Linked DNA regions of Homo sapiens. The protein of the gene in region 1 interacts with the protein of each later gene in a biochemical or structural test. Each region holds a gene or a part of one and is shown on either strand. Other genes may lie near its edges.

Region 1 (6,868 bases):
GATTACAGGCTTGAGCCACCGCGCCTGGCCTAGTACATGCTAACTTTATTTCTGGCACTAGCACTACACTATGGCACTTGGAAAACAAGAGCTATAAGTCACTGAGAAAGGAAGTTAAGAGTTAAGGCCCCTGAGCTGCCATCAGTAGGCATCGGAATTGGAAGGTCATGAAGGCAAATGTCACCTCTCCTTGAACTCAGAGGAGACCAGAATCCCAGGAGCCTCCCCCAGCTTTGGCTTAGTCTGTCCACCTTCTATGTGGGGTGGAATCTCAGCAGCTTGGATCCTCTACTGATGATTTCATCCAACCTTTTTCTCTCCTCTAGACTCTCCAGGGCAGTGGTTCTCAACCAGAATTTTTCCACAGGGGCCATTTAGCAACGTCTGGAGACATTTTTGGGTGTGATAGCTGGAGAGTGGGGTGCTGTCTTCTAGCATCCACCAGATCAGGGACACTGCTAAACATCTTGGGCTGCATAGGACAGTCCCTCACAACAAAGCATTATCCAGTCCAAAATGTCAATAGTTCCAGGGTTGAGAACCCCTGCACCCCTGCTCTCGGGCTAAGGAGCCCTTCCTTGGTTTAGTAGGTCTTGGGTGGGGCTAGGGCAGGGGGATGGGGGAAGAGAGAAGCTCCTTCTTGGAGGAGCTGGGGAATGGTGGAGGCAGCCCCTCTGCAACCCACAGAAAGGGTCCCAGGACAGCTTTTCTCTCATTATCATCAACCAAAGGGCTCAAGCACGGTGGCTCATGCCTGTAATCCCAGCTCTTAGGGAGGCAGAGATGTGAGGATAGCTTGAGCCCAGGAGTTTGAGACCTGCCTGAGCAATATAGCGAGACCCTGTTCTCCACAAAAAGGAAAAAAAAAAAAGACCAAAAAAAAAAAATACCAATTGTAACAACTAAAGAAAACAGAAAAAAATACGGAGCCAAATTCTTTATATGTATTATATTTTTCATTAATAAATAGGTTTTCTTCATTAAACACAGAACATATAACAGATTGAAACACTCCCCCCCTCCCCCCAATTCCAAAGACAAGAGTCTATAAAACAAATGCCAGCTGTACTACCCTAAGGGCAGAAAAAGTCTGGTGACCCCCACCCAGCCCTGCCCCTGCAGCACCACCACCCCCACACTCTGCAAGAGAAGGGGGTCTGGGGCTTCTCCCTTGGACCCTGGGGACTTAGGTGAGAAGCATGTGAATGTATGATGTCACCTCTCCATGAGGCATGGGCTATGCAAAGATGAGGTTTCCTTCTCATTGGCTCTGACCAGCTCCTGCACTTCCGATTGCAGTTACGAAGCACCTGGGCTAAGCCCCCAAGGGAGCTGCCGCTCCACTTCCCCACTCTCCGTTGCTGCCTCCTTAGAGGGGAAGGGAAGGGCTCAGGGACCCCTCCCATCCCCTGACCTGCATGGAAACGCTGTGTGGAAGAGGCATGAAGCTGAAGGTGAGGCTGCTGTAGGCCCCCAAGCCCATGAGGCCAGCATGCCCCCCGTCCCCCACAGCTTTCCTTCCTCTGGAGCGGGGGGGGCACTGGGGTAGTCGCCCCCTCCAAAATCTAGTGCCTGGCTTGGGGTATGATGGTTCTCTCTCAGCGTCAGGTCCTCATGCCGGGCCTGGCTCCTTCCTCGCCCCATTCCTGTCTCCTTCCAAGCCCTCACCGTGGCCATCTGAAAAACTCATGTCCAGTGTCCTAAATTGTCTCATCCTCCCTCTCCCCGTGCCTCTGCACCCCAAGGGAGGAAGTAGGGGGTTGTCTCCCCCCTCCAATTTCCACTTCACATAATGGAACAGCTTTTGGCCTTTTCCTTCTTGAAGGTAGAAGAGATGAGTTCAGAGCGACTGGGGAGGTGGAGCAGTCGTTTGGAGAGGCTTCGGACAGGGCTCTTCTGGGGCAGTGGGCTAGGCTTGTTCAGACACAGCATGGATGCCGTCCGAAAGATGCTGTGGATGCTCTTTTCTGAGGTGAAAGCTGAGCCTTCCAGGTAGATTTCTGCACCCAGCTGCTTTGCTATTGCACAACCCTGCAGGAGGGGGTGAGGGCATTAATGCAGTGGGCCAAAATGGCTCTGGGACGCTGCCTCTGTGCGTCACTCCCCAGGGCCACTCCAGAGGGGACCCAGCTGCCAGTCTCCAAACACCACCCTCTGCAGATTATTCGATTATCTTTTCTTTTTTTTTTTTTTTTTTGGCATACACCCTGTCTGATGATGCCTCTTTTTCTTAAGACGATGCCTGACTGCACATTATAAATCATCTGGAATACTCTTAAAACTATATTGATGCCAAACTAAATTAGAATTTCTGGGGATAGCTGGGGCAGTGGCTAGTGCCTCTAATCCCAGCTACTCAGGAGGCTGTGATGGGAGGATCACTTGAGGAGGCCAGGAGTTCAAGACCAGCCTAGGTGGCCGGGCGCGGTGGCTTACACCCATAATCCCAGCGCTTTGGAATTACAAAAATAAATCTCAAAAATAAAGATAATAAAATAATAATAAACACTTTTAAAAAATGTTTAAAAATTCACTGGAAGTGGGCACACAACTATAGTCTCAAATACTAGAGAGGATCCCTTGAGCCCAGGAGTTCTGCACTGTAGTGAGCTAGGATCACACCACTGCACTTCATTCTGGGTGACAGAGTAAGACCCTGTCTCTGGAAAAAAAAAAAAAAAAAAAAGGAAAAGGAAAAAAAAATTCTGGGTATAGAGCCAAGGCATTAGTATTCTTCTTTTTCTTTCTTTTCTTTTTTTTTTTTTTTTGAAACAGTCTCGCTCTGTTGCCCAGGCTGGAGTGCAGTGGCGCGATCTCGGCTCACTGCAAGCTCTGCCTCCCGGGTTCACACCATTCTCCTGCCTCAGCCTCCCGAGTAGCTGGGACTACAGGCACCCGCCAACACGCCTGGCTAATTTTTTGTATTTTTAGTAGAGATGGTGTTTCACCATGTTAGCCAGGATGGTCTTGATCTCCTGACCTTGTGATCTGCCCGCCTCAGCCTCCCAAAGTGCTGGGATTACAGGCGTGAGCCACCGCGCCTGGCCGGTATTAGTATTCTTAAGAGCTCCCCAGGTCAGGTGCAGTGGAGGCCAAGGCAGGTGGATCACCTGAGGTCAGGAGTTCAAGACCAGCCTGGCCAACATGGTGAAACCCCATCTCTACTAAAAATAACAAAAATTAGCTGGGCGTGTTGGCAGGCACCTGTAATCCCAGCTACGCAGGAGGCTGAGGCAGGAGAATCTCTTGAACCCGGGAGGCAGAGGTTGCAGTGAGCTGAGATCGCACCACTGCACTCCAGCCTGGGTGACAAGAGCGAAACTCAGTCCCCCAACCCTATGCTCTCATGCACATAAGAAATTATCCAGGGGTCTTATAAAAAATGCAGATTCCAGGCCAGGTGTGGTGACTCACAACTGTAATCCCAGCACTTTGGGAGGCCAAGGTAGGAGAATCACTTGATGTCAGGAGTTCAAGAACAACCCCGGAAACATACTGAGACCTTGTCTCTACAAAAAATGTTAAAAGATTAGCTAGGCGTGGGGCCCATACCTATAGTCCCAGCTACTAGGGAGACAGGAGGGAGGATCACTTGAGTCCGGGAGGTCAAGGCTGCATAAACAACTATTGTGCCACTGCACTCCAACCTAGGCAGATCACACTTTTTTTTCTTGAAATAGAGTCTCACTCTGTTGCCCAGGGATTACAGGTGTGCACCACCATACCTGGCTAATTTTTTGTATTTTTTGTAGAGACGGGGTTTCACCACGTTGGCCAGGCTGGTCTTGAACTCCTGACCTGAAGTGATCCACCTGCCTCCGTCTCCCAAAGTGCTGGGATTACAGGCATGAGCCACCACACCTGGCCTTTTTTTTTTTTTTTTTTCCTTGAGACAGAGTCTCTCACTCTGTCGCCCAGGTGGGAGTGCAGTGGCACAATCTCAGCTAACTGCAACCTCCATCTCCCAGGTTCAAGCGATTCTCCTGCCTCAGCCTCCTGAGTAGCTGGGATTACGGGTGCATGCCACCACACCCAGCTACTTTTGGTATTTTTAGTAGAGACAGCGTTTTGCCATGTTGGCCAGGCTAGTCCTGAATTCCTGAGCTCAAGTGATCCATCGGCCTTGGCCTCTCAAGTGCTGGGATTACAGGCGTGAGCCACCGCACCCAGTGCCCCTCCTCCTTTTCTTTTTTTTTGAGACAGGGTCTCACTCTGTCACTCAGGCTGGAGTGCAGTGGCATGATCACAGCTCCTTGCAGCCTCAACCTCCTGGGCTCAAGCAGCGGTCCTCCCACCTCAGCATCCTGAGTAGCTGTGACTACAGGCACTCACCACCACACCCAGCTATTTTTTTTTTTTTTTTTTTTTTTTTGGTAGAGACAGTCTTGCTTTGTTGCCCAGGCTTATCTCAAACTCCTGGGCTCAAGCTATCCTCCTGCCTCAGCCTCCCAAAGTTCTGGAATTACAGGCATGAGCCACCTTGCACCTGGCCTCTTTTTTTTGTGTGTGTGAAATTCTAACAAACACCTCTAATGATTCTAACGCAGGTGGTCAGAATACAATCTTAGAAATGTGGGCACACACAGGAATAACTCACCTGCTAACTGACAGCATACATCTGGGTAAGCAGGTGCCCACCACCTCTCTCCAGGTGACTCATTTGCTAATTATAACAGCAATTCTCTCTTGCCATAGTGGAAGAATTTGAGCCAGGGCCATATTTCAAGCTGTCTGCCTCTAGCCTTCCTCACTCCACCCCACGACATGCACTTGCATGCGCACACACCTGCTCATAGGAGATGGGCGCCTGCTTCTGGTGGGACAGCTCCATCAGAGTACTCAGGTCTGTTCGCAGGTCTGTCTTGCAGCCAATGAGCAAAACGCGGGTGCTGGGACAATAATCTAGGATTTCTGTCCTCCACTGAGGGGTGGAGCAGGAAGAAGGGTAGGAGAAGGAGGAAGGAAGGAGAGTTAGTGGCAGACAGATACCAGGAGAAGCTTGGCTGGCAACGTCACACACATCACCTCACTCATCACCAGCCCAGTCCTCCCTCTGAGTCACAGCATCACCGTTGCACTAATTACATCATTTTCCTGCCCATGAGGCCTTTGGGGCCCCCAGAGTGCTGACCCAGGAGCCTGTTCCCCCAGTCTATGGCTCAGTCACCAGAGAGGGCACAAGGGCAATTCTCCTCCCACTCTCTGCCAACCATATAGGCATGGATCTGCCCCCTCACCCCAAAGGGCCTCACAAGTCCAGAATGCCAGGGGGAAGCCAACCAGTCTCTTCTCAAGGGAAGAACATGATCCCAGCATCTTCTATACTATGCTAGATACACAAGGTTTCCTAGGACTCCTCAGCATTGGTGGATCTGCCCAGACCTAAGCATTTCATACCAGCAGCTCAGCTCAGACCTGCCTGGCTTGCCCATTCTCAGTGGGACTGGGATCAGGGTCTATAGAAGCTGCCTCCAAAAGGTCCCATGCCTGACCCTCATACCGTATCACCTAAAGGTTCTCTGACTCTCCGTCCTCTGCTTCCTGAGTCTTCAATACCACCCTCCCTTGCGGGGCCTCTGGCAAGGCAGCATGGGATAACAAAAAGGGCGGGAGGCAGTGGGGTAAGGAGACCCAAGTTCCAGTCCCAGAGCTGTAGCTAATGGTGTGGCCTTGGGCAAATCTCTTCCTTCCCTGGCTTCCATTTCTTGATGTTATACAAGAGGGCATTCATGACAAGGTCCCGATTCCTTCTTGGTCCTCATGCTGAGTTAGAGATTAGAGAGTTGATCTAGTCTTACCTTCTTGAGTGCGCTGTCCACTGTCTCTGGACGGCTGATGTCAAAACATAGTAATACTGCATCCGAGTCGCTGTAGCAGAGTGGACGGACATTATCGTAGTAGGGAGATCCTGGTGTAGGCCAGAAAGAGCTGATGGTGAGCCATGGTGTTTTCCTTCCCCAATAGGCCTAAGCCCTAAAGCCCTGGGAATACCATCCTCAATCCCTGAGGATCCACCCATCTCCCAGGGGGAATGTACTGCGGCTGGAAGCTTGGGACCTGACTGTCTGCCAGAAGGTCATGAAAGAATATCATCCCCCTTAGTCCAGAAAAAGGGAAAGAAGACAAAATAAAGTGGGTGGAGTATAATTTGGCCCTGTTTGGGTCTCCTACAGCAGGCTTAATTGGAGATCTACTAGTTTTCTGAGTCCCAGAAGATGCTTCCAGCCCTGCAGAGAGACAGCACTTATTTCAGGGCTTCTCTCTTCTAGAGCCTGCCTGCTGCCCAACTTCACTCCCTTCTGCTCCAGGGTCTCCCCAGTGAAGAGAAAAACCTCCTTGTTACATAACCTGCCTGCTGCTTTTCCATGGGGTCAGAACTTTAGGAGGCTAGCAGGGGAGGGAGAGAATCAAGGGTTCAGTGCCCCACTTCTCCACCCACCCAGATCGGCTTACACTGAAAAGGGCAAAAGGAAAGCTGTACCTCCTGACCGCCCCACATCTCAGGAAGGCAGTCTCAAAGACAGCAGCACCGATGGCTGGGGATTTAGAGGCTAGAGCAAGAGTCCTTCGTTGGAAGGGAAATAGGCAATGCAGACCCAGGTGGTCCCATATGGGAGAATGCTAGGAGCTGAGCCTGCCCCCTCCACCCTGGGGAAGGAGCAGTAGCGGATTTGGAACCCAGACAATCCGTGCTCAGAATAGCAAGCAGCCCCTCTCCCTGCACCACAATCGCCATGGAAACTGGGGGGAATCCAAGCTGGTGGGGGGATGTTGGTCATTAAAAAAAGGAATACAGGGGAGTTGGGATAGCTGCCTGCTCCTTCAGCAAGCCTCCTCCATCCCTTTCTGAGGTGGGGTCTTACCACTG
Region 2 (7,642 bases), on another chromosome or scaffold:
CCTCATATTGTGCCTTCTCTGAGCTAGGCAGGCACTTGGATGCCAGGCCTCTGCCACGAGGGCTGCCTTCCCCTGAGCTGGGAGTTCTCACTCAGCTCATGCCTCCGTCCCTCTGGCTGCAGCCTGGCCGCCCTCCTTGGAAGTTGGCGGGGAACCTCTTGTGCCCAGAGCCTGCCTTGGACACGGTTTGGGGATGAGGTGGTGAGCTGCTCAGAATTCACCCAGTGGCCAGCAAGTGGCCCCCCAGCCTTGACCTCCCTTCTCTGAGGCAGATCCAGGTTCTCTGGGGGTGGGAGATTCAGTAGGGCTGGGACTGGCCACAGCCCCTCCCTCCCTCAGGGGTAGTGGCTGTTTGTGTTTGGGGTGGGGCTGTGGGTGGGGTGGGGCTGGGTCTCTGACTAATTACACGATGGGGAGGGTGGGTCAGAGCCTTGGCTGGTGGGGGGTGCTCAGGCTCTGGGGCCCCGGGGAGGCAGCTGCCCTAGCTTCCCTCTTTCTGGTCGAGGTTCCTCCACCTTCTTCCTTTCCGTGGTTTCACATCCCTTGACACAGGGCCTGCTTCTTCCCATACCCCTGGATTGTAAGGACCCCTGCCTTTCTCTGCCTACCAGGGAAGGACCCTGCACTGTTCTGGGCTCCCCCAGCCACAGGTGTGGCCTCAAGCCAGGCCCTGACACAGTGGCCCTCCTGGCTCAGAAGCCTTCTCTCTGAAGACCAAGCGTGTGAAGGGATTGGCTGGGCCCCTCCCGTCTGGCCCTGAACACTGGCACCCCGCACCCCCCCAGTGGATCCACCCTGCCCTGTGAGATTCATGAACCTGTGACAGTGACTGGCCCCAGGCCCAGTGGTGCCGGGGATGGTGGGACAGGCTGCCCCTGGTGGTACTGCAGGTTTGCCCCACCCCCGGGGATGTCTGTCTGGGGAGGAGCCTGGGGCTGGCCTGGCTGTGGAGCTGGGGGTTCTGTTTCGCACAGTCCCGCCTCTGCAGCCCAGATCCTGGAGCCCTTCACACCCAGAGGCCAGCCCACACCGTGGCCCGCTATGGTTGGTGGCCTTCCCTGGGGGTAGCCCCTAAGGCCACACCTGAGCTGCCTCATGTCCCAGGCTAGGTGAGGGAGGAGACTGCCCTGGGCTGGGATCAGGGCGCCTGGGGGCAGGTCCAGCTCTCTTCCTCAGCCCCCTAAGGTCTCCTGGCTTCTGAAAGCCAATAGTTCCTCATTCCAGTGCCAGCTGAGTCCCGGCCCAGGCCTGGGGCAGGAGAGGGAGGTGCTGCCCCAGTTCAGCCACCAGCTCTGCCAGCAGGGTCCCAGCAGCAGCAGCATCAGAGGCAGGGACTGGGCTCCTGGGGGTAGGGCCCCGGCCCCTCTGGCACAGCTGGTCAGCAGCTTCCATGGGGGGCCCTGTGTGGAGACACAGTGTCCAGCACCGATTTCTGGGCCTGATGCTGCCCCAGCTGAGTCCCGCAGCAAGCGCAAGAGAGAGAAGTGCTTGGTGTCCACCTCTGAGAAGGCCTCCTGTGTGAACACGGCCCCCTGAGGGGCCAGGCAAGGGCGTCTGCTCCTGTGGCTGGGACGGTTCCTGCCCACGAGCCTTGTGTAGGGCTGCGGCTCTCTTCCCAGGTGACCTTCTGTTGTGGTCTGGGGCCCCCGAGCCAGCATGCCACCTGCTCAGAGACAGATTGGGCCCCCTGTCAGATTGGCGTCTGGGGGCACTGTCTGCTCCTTCCAGGCAGCTTTGAGGACTTCTCAGAGGAGGAACCCCCCTGCCCTGCTGGTCCAAAGTGGGGTGCTGAAGGCCGAGGCAGTTTCCAGGGGGCTATGCCTCAGGCTGCGTGGGTGGCTGTGGTAGGAGCGTGCTCTGTGATTGTCACTGCATTTGCCTGGGGTCCATGCTCTGTCCTCAGCTGGGGTCTGGCTTTGAACCTAGGTGAGTTCTGGGGCTCTGAGGACAGGCCAGAAGCAGGAGTGTGGGGGGGTCTCTCCTGGGGGAAGCAAGGGAGGCCTGGGCCTGTGTGACTCAGACGTGGTAGGGTGGCATGGGAGCCACAGCTTGGGGGGATGGCGGGGGGCTTGAGGGTAATCCAAGTATTTCAGGGACCCAGCCATGGAGAGTGGGGTTTGAGGACCAGCAGGAGGTGAGGACTCTGTGGATCCCAGCCCTGTCAGGTGTGTTTTCAGAGCTGGGGCCTGCTTTGGAGGAGATGGAGGGCACAGAACACTGCTGAGCCCAGGCCCTGTGCCCAGCCTTGCTCCAGCCTTACCGGCTTGACACCAGGGCCTCCCTCCCACCAGCGAGGGGGAGAAGCTATTTTAAGTGGAGCCAGCAGTTGACAGGGGCAAGGGGCAGGTGGTGGGAGGGAGGTGCTCCAGCATGGCCCCCCCCACTCCCTCTCAGCCTCAGAGATTGGCCAGGGGAGCTGAGGGGCTTGGCCTCCCCACTCCTATGTTGGCACCGAGCCTGATCTGGTGACCACCCTGAGGGACTTCAGGAGAAAAGGATGTTAGGGAGGAGGGCGTGAAGGTGGGGCGCCCCAGGCAGGCCGCCCAGGCCCAGCAAAGCTCGCTGGAGGGTCCCCCAGTTCCACATCTAGACCTGGGGCCCAGTGGCTCTCGACCAGGCCCTGTGGGGTTTGAAGTCCTCAGCTCCACCATGAGCAGAGCAAGCCTCCGCGTGGAGCAAGGGGCTGGACCTGGCCTCCAGGGGCACCCACCTCCCCACACAGCTCCAGCCACGGGCATCACCTCCCACTCACTGTCCTGCCCCCACTCTGAGATGGGCATTTCCTCACTGGGAAATCCCTGTCCCTCTGGCCTCCCAAAGCCCTGAGTGTTTGCCCCTGTGGGGCCCAGCCCACACCCTGGGCTGCCTCACCCTTGGCCTGGACCCAGGTCCTGCCCAACACCCTGTGCCTCACCAGCCCCCAGCTCATCCTGGGCAGACGCAGCCCCTCTCCCCTGCTGAGACGGCCCTGCCCCCACCCCACTTCCCCATGCCACACATGGCCCCTCCCTCGGGGCTCCAGGCAGCGCTGGGTTCTGAGAGCCCCACTGCCCCTCTTAGCCCAAGTGCCCCGGCCTGAGGCTTCTCTCCCAGGCTCTTTGTACTGGGGACGAGTTCTGGGTGTTGGGGTGAGACCCTGTTGGCAGGGCTTTTCCGGCAGCACCCAGCCATGTGTGTCTGCACATGTGTGGTCATGTGTGCAAGTGGTGTCTGGCACACAGGCTTGGCGCGGTGCCCCAAGCTAATTGTGGGGTTCAGCGGTGATGGGCGAGGCGGGGCTGGGGTGACCGCTGAGGCGCTGACAGGCTGACGGGGAGATTACAGGCCTTGCTTACTGCTCACTGGCTGGGGCCTCACCCGTCCACCCCCCAACGCCCACCCCGGGGGTGAGAAGGGGGCTGTGGGCGGGGGCTGGTCTTGAGCCAGCTGCATCCAGGCAGGACCTGGTCTCTGAGCAGCCGGCTGCTGCGGGGTTGAGCTGGAAAGGGGGAGATGCGTGGGGGCCACTCAGAGGAGAGCCTGCAGGTGGGGCTGGGCACCGGCGGGCCGGGAGGCCTCCTTTCAGGAGAGACTCCAAGTGACTGAGCCCCAGAATCCCACGAGAGTCCCTCCGTGGCCGCCTGCTGTCTGACCGCATGTCCTGTCCTGATGAGTTGGTGGTTCCTGCTGTAGCCATCGGCCTCGTGTGCCCCGAGCGCCTGGCGGTGCCCACCCCTCCCACAGGAGGTCCTCAGGAAGCACGGAGACATCGGTAGGTTCATTGCGCTGCCCAGCTTTCTGACCCGAAGGACCACGGTGTAGCAAGAGGGGGCTGCAGCTGTGCCCAGGTTGGACAGGATGGGGTCTGGGACCCCGAAAGGGGTGGTTGAGGAGAGAGGTGGTTCTGCAGGCCTGGTGCGTGTGGGGACAGGGCGCCGTAGCCAACTGGATCCCACCTTCTGTCTGAGGGCTGGGGAGGACCATCCTCCAGATGCGCCAGTGGGCCGTGGCCAGAGAGGAGGCTGAGGAGGGCCTCACAACTGTGTGTAGGATGGGAGGGCAGCCTGGGGCCCCAGTCTAGGGACGCACCATATACAGGGGCTGCACTTGGTGCAGAGGCGGAGAGGGGGCTGGGGCAGGCCCCTTGGGCATGGCCAGGTGAGCTCAGGGGGTGCCTGAGGGCCAGGGCTAGATACAGAGGCCCTGGGTACCAGGTGGCCTGGGTGTGTCAGGAGGTGTGGACCAGTGGGGGCTGTGACTAACTCGGCTGGAGCAAGTGACAGGAGGAGCTGGGGCTTCATGGGGCACCCCCAGGATCCTGGGCTGGTGACCCCATCACTGCCACCAGCCAGGGTGACTTTTCCTGCTGGGACCCAGAGCCCAGACTGCAGGGGAGGCTGGCCCTAAGTAGGAACCCCACCCTGAAACCAGGCTGGCGGGGAAGGGGTGCGACGGCCTCCACCTGGGAGGGGTCCTCAGCCGAGAGTCCAGCGGGGACCGCTGTAGACGCTGAAGCGAGGCTCAGGCCTCCACATCAGTCTGTCCCTGGAGCCCCGCCCCGCCCCGCCCCGCCCCAGCTCCTAGGTCGGGTTGTGCCGGGAGCGTTCGGCCTTTGCCTCGGGTGAGTCTGGCCTTGACCCTGGGTCCGGAGTCCTGCGGGAGGCTGCTCCGGGCAGGGTCGTGCATGATTGGCAGCTGGGCCGGGAGGGGCCGAGCCCTGAGACCGACCGGGGGCACGGGCGGAGCCACCATCGGCGGGGCGGAGCTGCTCCCCGCGCCCCTTCCACGGCTCGGAGGACTTAGGTAATGGCCGGCTGTGCGATCCGATGTGCCCGACGCCAGGTGAGCGCCCCGCGGGGACGACGTCTCCTGCGCTCGTGTGACTGTCGCCGCCGCCGTCATTGTTACTCGGGTCAGACTCCCACCCGCCCGCGCGTCCTGGGCCCCCGGCCTGGTGAGGTTTGTCCCAGAGGCGGCCACGTGCTCCCTCCAGGTGCGCGAGGCCGAGGGGCGGACGGGGCGCCGGAGTCCCCGGGAGGGCGCGGGCGGTGGCCGTGGAGCTTGGGCTCGCGGGGGGCAGTGGGCGGCGCCGAGGAGGCGCGGGCCTAGTCCCTGCGCTTCCTGGCCCCGGGCGCGCTTTGCCCCTGGCTCCCGGGCAACCGTTCTGCGCCCTCCGGGGAGTCTGGCGGTGCCGGCGCCGGGGGAGGGGCTGTGCCACCTGGGTCGGCCTGCGAGGAATAGTCCAGGGCGCTCCACACAGGCCGGGTGCCCGCCTTTGGCTCTGGCCGGGTACCGGGCTCGCAGACCCACCCAGGAGACACCGCCCCCCGCCTCCCGGGCTGAACTCTGACCCGGGTCACCGGTGGGTGGGGCTGGGTGGCGGGGCCGCCGGTCTCGCCCTCGCCGGGTCTCCCGCGCGCTCTCCACCCAGTCCCTCCCCGCGCCTACCCACGGGCGCGGCGCTGCGGGAAGGGGCGGCCGGGGTCCTTGCCGACCCCCCAGCCCCACGCCCCGCGGCACCCCCCTCGCGCTTGTTTTGAAAACAGCGGAGGCTGGGATTCGCCGGCGCGTCTGTTTTGTTTCCTCTGATGTGTTTAGCGCTCTGGGATAATTGCAGATTTGCGTGTGTCGCTAGCTTTGGCCCGGCCCCCTGGCTGCTGGCTGCGGGGCCTCCGGGGCCTCCGTGGCTTTTCTGTGACGCCTGTCGCCCCGTTCCGGGACAGCCACTCTCAGACGCGCCTTGGCCTGTGCTTGGGGCAGCCTATCGCTCACTTGGTCCGAGGCTGCTTCCCCCGCCCCCGCACCGGGCCCCCCCCCCACCCCACGCAGGGCCTGTGTCCACCCCAATCCTTTGAGCCCTGGAGGGCCGCACAGCCCTAGGACCTCTGCCTTCTCCACCGCCCATGTCCTAGGTGCTCATGCCACCCCCTCCTGCCCTCCCAGGCCTAGGCCCGAGCTCTCCTCGTTCTTCATGGCGGCTGCTGCCTGGATCCCCATCTTGGCCCCTGCCGGGCCGCTGCCCATGCACCTCCTCTGGCCCCTGCCCTCTCTGGTTCCCGTGCCAGAGCCCACAGCCTGGCCTGGCCAAGAGCAGCCCCCAAGCTGGGCCTGCCCTCCCACTGGGCCTGACTGCTTTGTGCTGGTTTGATTTTAGCATTAAGAATGGTCAGTCTGGCTGGGTGTGGTGGCTCACGCCTGTAATTCCAGCACTTTGGGAGGCCAAGGCGGGTGGATTGCCTGAGCTCAGGAGTTCGAAACCGGTCTGGGCAACACGGTGAAGCCCCATCTCTACTGAAATACAGAAAATTAGCTGGGCATAGTGGCGTGCACCTGTAGTCCCAGCTACTGGAGAGGCTGAGGCAGGATAATTGCTTCAACCTGGGAGGCAGGGGTTGCAGTGAGCCAAGATCATGCCCCTACACTCCAGCCTGGGTGACAGAGTGAGACCTGTCTCAGAAAAAAGAAAAGAATGGCCCAGTCTGTTTGCTTGAAAATACTGAAAGGCAGAGAACTCCCAATTTTAGTCCCCACTGGAACCACCCCGCAGTGCAGCCAAGACTTGGGGCGGTCTCAGAACCAAGGCTGGCAGGAGTTTGGGGGCCTGGCAGCCCCCACTCTTGGCCTCATCTGGAGTAGGGCTCTGTCCTTCCCCCTTACATGCCTCTTGTTTACCTTTACCCAGTGGGAGGGGCGGGGGCCAGACTCAGCCCGTGCAAGGGGCCTGGGGGCTGCTGGTCAGAAAAAAAAAACAAAAGGGACCTCAGGAGAGGGCCACAGGTGCCCAGCCAGCAAGCAGCTCCTGCTGCCTCCCAGGCTGTCTAGGTTGTAGAGGGGAGGCCCAGCATCCCTGTGCTGCCCTTGGCCTACATCGGAGTTCTGGTTGGGGGAGGAGACCCTTCTGCTCTGTTGGCCTGGGGGTGACCTGCGGGGACAGGTCTTCTGGGCTCGCGCCCCTGCATGTCACCACCCCTTCCCGGCTCACTGAGTTTGGACCGGCAGGTGCCCAGTGACCAGATCCAGTGTTTGGACTTGTTGGGGCAGGGCGGCGGGGCAGCCGGGGCCTGTCGGGGAAGACCATAGACCACAGAGCAAGGCCAGTCCCTCAGGGGCTGGGTTAGGGAGGGTGTCTCGGGGTCTAAAGGATGGGCAGGGGCTTTCCAGGGAGCACAGTGAACATGGACGTGGGAATGTCGTGAGGCAGCGTTCTCTGAGTGGGCACAGCTGTAAAGATTTCCACACCCACTCAACCTCAAGGCAGCCCTCTGAGGTGGGCGCCATAATGACCCCCAGGTTACATATGGGGAAACTGAGGCACAGAGCAGCTTTCTGAATGGCCCACATGAGCCAGCTAGAACGTGACAGAGCTGGGGTGTGAACTCACTGGTCTGGCTCTGGACTTCAGGCCTCGAGGTCCCTGGGTGCAGCAGCGTCAGGTGTGACCACAGCCACCTAAGGAAGAAACTCCTTTTTCTGGGGTAGCTAAGCGGGAATCTTGTGAGCAGGAGATGGAGCCTGGCTCAGTGTTGAGGGCAAGATGGATGGAGGTGGGAGAAGCCAGAGGCCGGGCAGAGGAGGTAGACTTGGGCCAGGAAGGGCCCCAGACTGAGGGTGGAGGGATCATGGTGTTATTCTCTGGGAGGGGAAATCCATGGCCGTTCTCCAC
Region 3 (7,642 bases), on another chromosome or scaffold:
TGCTTTCTGCTTGCTTGTTTGCCTTCCAGCCATGCTGGGCACCCCTTGAGCTCAGGAGCATTGAGCCCTGGGCCTGGCCCAGAGTGGCTGGGCCACTAAAAGCAGGGTTGGATCCTGCTTTCCAGAAATGTCTGAGCACCCGTGCTCTGCTAGGCCCTGCCCATCATGGCGATGCCCACGCCCAGGGTCCTGCCATCCTCAGGCTCAGACTCAAGTGAAGAAGACGGGGCGGCAAATGGCGACAATGGCATGTGTAAGTATCACTGTGGGGGCTGTGGAGCCCAGAAGAGGGCCAGACCCTACCATGCTCAGTGGAGAGGTGGCAGCCCCTCACTGCACAAGTGCCCAGGGCACCCCGGCAGCTCACGCGGTGCCGCCCTCCATGTGCCTGCCCTTGACCCTCAGGCAAAGACGGCTGCAACAGGAAGTGGAACCACTATTACCACACACCTGCAAGCCAGGCCCCGCTCTGGGGACTTTACTGCAGTCACTCTGCTCTTCAGAGGAGCCAGTGCAGGAAAGGAGGCCCTGCAGGTCTGGTCCCCGCCAGAACACTCAACCAGCCTGTGGACTGGCAGGATCTGAACTCAGGCCTGCCGGGTCCCACCTGCAGCTCTCTCTGGCCCCTGCCATTGAGCTACGCACCACCCTGTCCCCACCTCATCATGTGCAGATGACTGTTCCAATGTGCTCTGATCATCCAAGCCTGGGCACACGGGCATCACAGCCAATCACATGCAGCTACACACACCCTTGCCCATGTGCCAAGCACTGGGACATGCATGACAACAGCTAGGTGACAGTGGCTGTCACAGTTTATTACCACATCCATTCAGTGGCCCTAGGAGCCCGTCAGCACGACTGAGGAGGAAATGAACTCAGAGGGGGTCAGCGATCTGCTGATCTGGGGTCTGACCCGACCTGAACCCTGCCTCAGCCAGAGCTTTTAGCCCCTTCCCTCAAGCAGAGCCCTCCCCACAGAGCAGCACAGCCCACACAGGGCAGTCAGAGTTTGCTGGCGGAGGTTGGATTTGCCCTGAGCTTCAGAGGGGAGGGAAGCGGGCAAGGCGCTCTGTGGGGACAGAGCAGGAGCAAAGGCTGGAGGCAGAAGTGCAGGTGGGGAGGGGTCAAGCCAGGTGGCTCTGGGATTGAAGGGCAAGCCCAGGGGCAAGTCACGCAGGCTGCGGAGTCAGGGGGCCTCCAACCCAGACTCAGGAGTGTGGGGCTTGAGAGGAAGGAGGGAGGCGTGTGGGGTGCTGGCAGGGAGAGGTGGAGCCATGGAGGGAGGCAGGGACTGACTTGGGTAGGGGAAGTGGGGATTTCAGAGGGGGATGAGAGGGTGAGGATTCTCAGGGGAACAGGGAAGTAGTGAGGAGTGAGGAGCTCAGAGATGCAGAGGGTGGGGGGGAAGGGAGAACTTCAGAGCTGACCAGAGCTCTCAGCCCCGAGGCCCAACACCTGGCCCCAGTGGCGTGTGACCAGAGCAGGACTGTCCCTTTCATGTCTCCACAGACCCTGAAGCACCTGGCACAGCATGCTCTGTGACGCTGGCAGAGAGAGGGGGAGAGTGAGCGATCCAGCCTGAGGCCAAGCCCCTTCATGGCCCCACCGGCCCTCCTCCCTAGGAGTCCCAGGCTCCAGGAAGTTTGATCACCCCACTGGCTCGGCACAGACGGCCCTGGCTCACCCTCCACAGGCCTCCACCCCAGCGCCTGTGGGAGCCTCTCCAACAGAGGGAGAGCAGAGCAATCAGCCGAGTGTCAGGCAGGCCAGCGGGGGCCAGGCTGTGAGCCTGAGGCCCCTGGGCGGAGCAGGGTGGCACCTGGGGAGAGAGGAACGGGGACGCCGGAGAGATGTCCCAGGAACAGAAGCTGCTAGCGACGAAAAACGTCATTCATCTGGCAGAAAGAGCCGAATCAAGGCCCCCCGCCCATGCTGAAAAAATCAAAGAACAAAAGAAGGAAGAGAACGCACGGAGGGACCACAGATATGGCCAGGGCCTCCAAGATGGAGGGCAGGGTTTTTCACAAGTTACTTTGACTTGAGGCACTCAGAGCACAAACAACCAAACAGGGCAGAGTAGGAATCCACAGAGCCAGGTCCAGAAACCAGCCACCTGGCAAGGAGCAAGGAGGTCCCCCCTGGCCAGGAGGAAGGCTGCCCTGCAACAAGATGGCAGGCCTACCTGAAGCCTGAGCCCAGCCCGCCACAGCAGGGCCCAGGGTGCGGCACTTGTGGGCCTCTGGCCTAGATCCAGGATAGACATTCTCAGAGCACCTGCAGCCACCCAATAGGGCCTCACCTCTCACTCATGCCAGGGGTCCCTTGAGAACTCTCCCCACGACACCCACCCTGGGTTCAGTTAGAGCTTTGGAGTTGGCATGCCTGGGCCTACAGTGCCCTGGGCAGCAGGGACACGCTCCCCTTCCTAGCATCATAGGGACTGCACAGCCCCCAGCTTTGCTGTGTCCCAAGTGTACTCAGCATCTTTCCCGCAGCTGTGCTCCCTCGGGTTATCCCTGACTCCTCTGGTCCTCTCCCTCATGTAAAGACACCAAGGCCACGGATTCTACTTAAATCTCTCTGCCCATCCCTTCTCACCATCCCCACCCTCAAGCTGGGCATCATCTCATCTTCTGCCTCAGTGACCAACTGCCTTACAGTGGGCTGTCAGCCTTAAGTCTTGCCCCTCTTCCCTCAATAATGAGTCCACAGACTCCTTAAGTGCCTCCCTTTACCCATCTGTGAAATGGAGTAACTCCTGGCCCCTGTCAAGGCTATGAAGATGCTGGCAGGGCACAGTGGCTCACAACTGTAATCCCAGCACTTTGGGAGGCTGAGGCAGCAGGATCACTGGCATCCAGGAGTTCAAGACCAGCCTTGGCAACGTAGCGAGACCTCGTCTCTACAAAAAATAAAGAAAATCAGCTGGGTGTGGTGGCACGTGCCTGCAGTCCCAGCTACTCAGACAGCTGAGGTGGGAGGATCACTTCAGCCCAGGAGGTTGAGGCTGCAGTGAGCCATGACTGTGCCACTGCACTCAGCCCAGGCAAAAGTGAGACCCTGCCTCAAAAAATAAAAAGAAAAATAAAGAAAAGAAAAAAGAAAATGCTTTGAAAGCTGCAAATGGCTGGGCGCGGTGGCTCACACCTGTAATCCCAGCACTTTGGGATGCCGAGGCGGGAAGATCACGAGGTTAGGAGTTTGAGACCAGCCTGACCAACATGGCGAAACGCTGTCTCTACTAAAAATACAAAAATCAGCCGGGCATGGTGGTGGGCGCCTGTAATCCCAGCTACTCAGGAGGCTGAGGCAGGAGAATCGCTTGAACCCAGGAGGCAGAGGTTGCAGTGAGCCGAGATTGTGCCATTGCACTCTAGCCTGGGCAACAAGAGCAAGACTCCATCTCAAAAAAAAAAAGAAAGCTGCAAATGGCACAAAAATGGGAAGTGATGTTTTGAGAACAAGCAGTGAGGGCGTTAGACCCTGAGATCTGGGGGGATCCAGCCAGAGCCCAGGCCTAAACAGGAGGCAGGATTCTCATGTTTGGAATCTGGGTTTTTACCTAGCAGGAAACCAAGAAGGTGTCGTCATCTTCCAAATGGGCCCCTTGGAAGCTGTGCTCCTATTCCCGTGGGACCCCTGCCCTCAGACTTTGGAAACAACAATGGCTGCAAGGCCAGAGCTAGGCGCTCTGCGTTTAACTCATTTGCTCCTTGTAACTCCCAGGGAAGAACACTCCTGTTTTGTTGATGAAGTGAATAGAGGTCATCTGCCCAAGTCACACTTGGGATAGGAGGTAGAGTCGAGTTGAGGGCCCAGGTGTGCCTGACTCTAGAGCCTGGAGAAGCATCTTTTGGGTGACAATCTCCATTCTTTGAAGAGAATGGGCCTGGTTTTCAGAAATGGCCAGTTTTATGGACCCAAATCTGTGGGTCTATAGGAGGGGACTGTGGGAGGAATCCCTCTAGATATTAGAAGTTAAAAATAAGACATGGTAGGCCAGGCGTGGTGGCTCACACCTGTAATCCCAGCACTTTGGGAGGCCAAGGTGGGCAGATCACGAGGTCAGGAGTTCAAGACCAGCCTGGCCAACATGGTAAAACCCCGTCTTTACTAAAAATACAAAAATTAGCTGGGTGTGTTGGCACACACTTGTAATCCTAGCTACTCAGGAGGCTGAGGCAGGAGAATTGCTTGAACCTGGGAGGCAGAGGTTGCAATGAGCCAAATCGTGCCACTGCACTCCAGCCTGGGTGACAGAGCAAGACTCCGTCTCAAAAAAAAAAAAAAAAAAAAAAAAAAAAGACATGGTAGGGGCCCACAGAACCAGGTGGATTCCAAGGGCCATAAGCAAACCTGGAGAGGGAGGCCAAACCTGGGAATTTGGCAGCAGCTTCTAGAACAGAAGGATTGCCTTTTTTTAAAACGGCAACATCTTCCAGATTGGTGGCGTTTTGTAGACTATGTGACCTGAGGCAAATAAGGCCTTGCTACCTCTTGTATCTCTGGGTCTCTGACAGATGAGCAAGAGAGAGCAGAGGTAGGACCGTGGAGAAGTGGGCCAGCAGGTTAAGTGGTCAGTGATGGAGGCCAAGGCTGCTCCCACATTGTCTCAGGGGCAAGTTGTGGGCTCTCAGGGCGTCTTGGGTCAGGGACCCGGGCACGAATGAGATAGGCCTCTGGGGAGCTGCCGGCCAACAGCAAACTGTTGGAGAATTCCTTTTGAAGAGGGCCTGGGGCAGACGCCCTGCTCTACCTGGCTTCCAGAACTTCTTGGCTGTCATCCAGTCCCTCTCGCCATGCTCTGAGACTGTCTTGCTCTCTGAGTCCTCCTGGTCCATGGGCTCGCCCACCCACTGCAGGCCATAGTCACTGAGGAACCGCTGTGGGAAAGAAGGGGGAGATGCGGGGCACCGTCAGCTCAGCCCCTTCCCAGGGAAAGGCAGTGTCAGCCCAAAGCCCAGCCTCAGTCTGCAGGCAATGGGGCCCCCAGAGCTGACCAGACAAAGGGATGAGTAGGGGGATCTTGCCATTTCCTGGCTGTGACCTTGGAAAGCCACCTCAGTCCCTAGAGCCTCAGACGACTCCTCTAATAAAATGGAGTGACAGTTCCTGCCACATAAGCTTGTGAGGAGGGCTCAGTAAGATCACTCAGGTCAGCGCCCAGCCCATGCGAGGGCTCGGTAAGGTCAGCCTCCTTGGCTGCAGAAATCACGTGGCCTGGCCCAAGTGTGAGAAGGAGGCAGGGCTGAGGGATGTGAACCATGTGCCAGCCTCCCTAGGGCTTGGCCGCATGTCCCCTCTGCCACAGGAAACTTCTGGACTGTCTACATGTCCACACCCCGACTTCTTTTCTCAAGCCACTCTAACCTGGCTCCATCGCCATACCTCTCTGAAACTGCTCAAGGTGCTGCAACCACCAACCTACCCGCTGCCAAGCGCATGGGCACATTTCTGTCTATCTTTCACCATCTGCTAGTTTTCCTCCCATCTCCTGGGCTGTTCCTTTCCAATTTCCTTCACCGTTTCCCCTTCCTATCCAACACCAACTCATGGGGGCCCAGCTCCATCCACACGCTCTCCCAAATATATACGACAGAACCCAAGTTTGTATTTATGCAGATTTCACCCGAGCTCCAGACTCACATTTCCAACCGTCCACACTTGGATGTCTAATGGCTGTGGCTCTTGTCCCCCTGTCAAACCTCCCCCGTGCCAGGTTTTCCTGTCTCCAGAAATGGCACCCCCTCCACCTGAGAATCCTCTGTCGCCCATTCCTCCAGGATGACCCACAAGGCCTGTGGTGCCCCCTCCAATGCAGCCTGGAACCCATCCACTGGGCTCCATCTGCTGCCACCACCCTAGTTCAAGCCACCGTCATCTTTCTCCTGGACAATCCAGGGGCGGCGCCTGCTTCCCCCGTCCTCTCCTCACCCACACCACCCAACCCCACAAAGCAGGGTGGTCTTTTTGTCATGCCACCTCTCAAACAGAAGCCTTCCAATGGCTTCCCATTTTTTCGGGACAGGATCCAGCCAGAACCACGGGCGGCTCCAATGTGATAAGGCCCCCACGACCTCTTCTCTTTTCCCGTTCTTCTCCTTCCTCCACACAGCCACCGACCGCAAGCCAAGTTATGTGGCGGGAAGTGGCACCTTCCCTGTCTAAGGCCTGGATCCTCTCACCCCATTCCCCTCCTCACTCACCAGACATCATGCCCAATGTCACCCCCGCAGGTGGTCCCCCAACTTGCCTCTGTGGTGTCACCCATTTCATCAAGTCACAGCACTCTCTGTACTTGTGTACCTGTGTACTCGTTTGTTCCCCTCCCCACAGACTGGCAGCCTCATGCAGGCGGGGGACTATGTCTGTCTTGGTCATGCTCTGCCCCAGGCCTGCCCCAAGCAGATCCTCCAGATGAGGCTGTTAAATGAATGAAGTGATAACTGTGTGGCGGAGACGCATGCAAGGGCAGTCATGCCCCTGCCCCGAGGCTCTGGTGCAGCCCTCACCGCCTGTGGCCACTGCTCGGGGACAACCCCAGGTATGAACAGCTTGGAGTGGGAAGGGCTCTCAGCTGCAATTGGAGGTTTGCTGCCAAGGTTTTAAATTAGATTGGGACTTTGGAAACCAATTCTGCGTGGAGAGGGAGAGAGGCTGAATCCCAGGAAGAACTTCTGGCAGGGCCCATGCGTGCCTGGGACCCTTCTCTGTGCCTGGTGTCCCTCTAGTTCCCTTGCTGTTTGAATGGGTCTGTGAGCGGGGGAAAGAAAGGTGACTGGGGTCACTGAGTCCCCAGTGAGCAGAAGTCACAGCCAGAGGCAGCAAATTGCTTAACCAATTCAGTGCTAGGTCCTGGGTGCACAGTGACATACAGGAGGAAACTGCTCCCTCCGTCGTGGAGTTCAGAGTCCCACAAGGGAAGAGAGATGAGGCACTGAGAAAGCTCGGGATGGAAAACCTGCCTAGGAGGCCCGGGGGATATGACTGAGGACAGTGGAACTGACCTGGGGGAGGTGGGGAAACATTTCAGCAGAGGGAACAGCAACAGCACGGCCCAAGGCCCTGAGGTGGGAAGCAGCTCCATGAGGTCAAAGACCCAGAGGAAGGGCCTCATGGCTGGAGGGGAGAGTGGTTCAAGCTAAGATGAAGAGGCATGCAGGGGCCAGCCCGCAGGGGCCACAGCGAGGACTGTAGAATTCAGTTCAGTGGGAGCCATGAGGTCTGCTAAGCAGGGGAGAGGCATGTTCAGAGGGCCCAAAAGCAGGGGTGTGCCCCAGCCCCAGACACCTCCCTGGCTCTTTAAAGTCTGGGCCAGTCCTGGGTAGGGAAATGCAGGGCAGGGTCCCTGGGTGGGATGTGACGAGGAGAGGCCCAGAGAGGTGGGCTCGGACCCAGCTCCTGAGGAACATGCCGTGAAGAGCTGGGGACTGCTGGCTGCCCGCATCCCCCGGGGCCCAGCTCTCTCACCTCCATCTCCCTGACCTGCCGCTGCAGCTGCACACACATCGTCTCCAGTTCCTCCTGCCGCTGCAGGGTTGCCTCGGCTTCAGGGAAAGACAGGGACAGGCTTCAGCTGCCCCAGCAAGACACTGCCAGGTCACCTCTGCCCTGAGGGTCATCTGGAGAAGCTGTTCTG

The links.
Region 2: the proteins of RND1 (region 1) and PLXNB2 form a complex in vitro, tested with the Homo sapiens proteins (one study listed by IntAct).
Region 3: the proteins of RND1 (region 1) and UBXN11 form a complex in vitro, tested with the Homo sapiens proteins (one study listed by BioGRID).

What each region holds. Positions count from the first base shown.
Region 1 is NC_000012.12:48,856,211-48,863,078, forward strand, and holds the end of RND1 (rho-related GTP-binding protein Rho6 precursor), read right to left. Parts: intron 5,909-6,868; coding exon 5,799-5,908; intron 4,922-5,798; coding exon 4,787-4,921; intron 2,032-4,786; coding exon 1,786-2,031; 3' UTR 935-1,785; downstream 1-934. UniProt on the Homo sapiens protein: Lacks intrinsic GTPase activity. Has a low affinity for GDP, and constitutively binds GTP. Controls rearrangements of the actin cytoskeleton. Induces the Rac-dependent neuritic process formation in part by disruption of the cortical actin filaments.
Region 2 is NC_000022.11:50,297,456-50,305,097, reverse strand, and holds part of PLXNB2 (plexin-B2 isoform 3 precursor), read left to right. Parts: intron 1-1,276; exon of another isoform or gene 1,277-1,619; intron 1,620-3,428; exon of another isoform or gene 3,429-3,635; coding exon of another isoform or gene 3,636-3,751; intron 3,752-4,586; exon of another isoform or gene 4,587-4,600; intron 4,601-4,762; exon of another isoform or gene 4,763-4,972; intron 4,973-7,642.
Region 3 is NC_000001.11:26,289,446-26,297,087, forward strand, and holds part of UBXN11 (UBX domain-containing protein 11), read right to left. Parts: intron 7,551-7,642; coding exon 7,474-7,550; intron 4,887-7,473; coding exon 4,760-4,886; intron 1-4,759. UniProt on the Homo sapiens protein: May be involved in the reorganization of actin cytoskeleton mediated by RND1, RND2 and RND3. Promotes RHOA activation mediated by GNA12 and GNA13.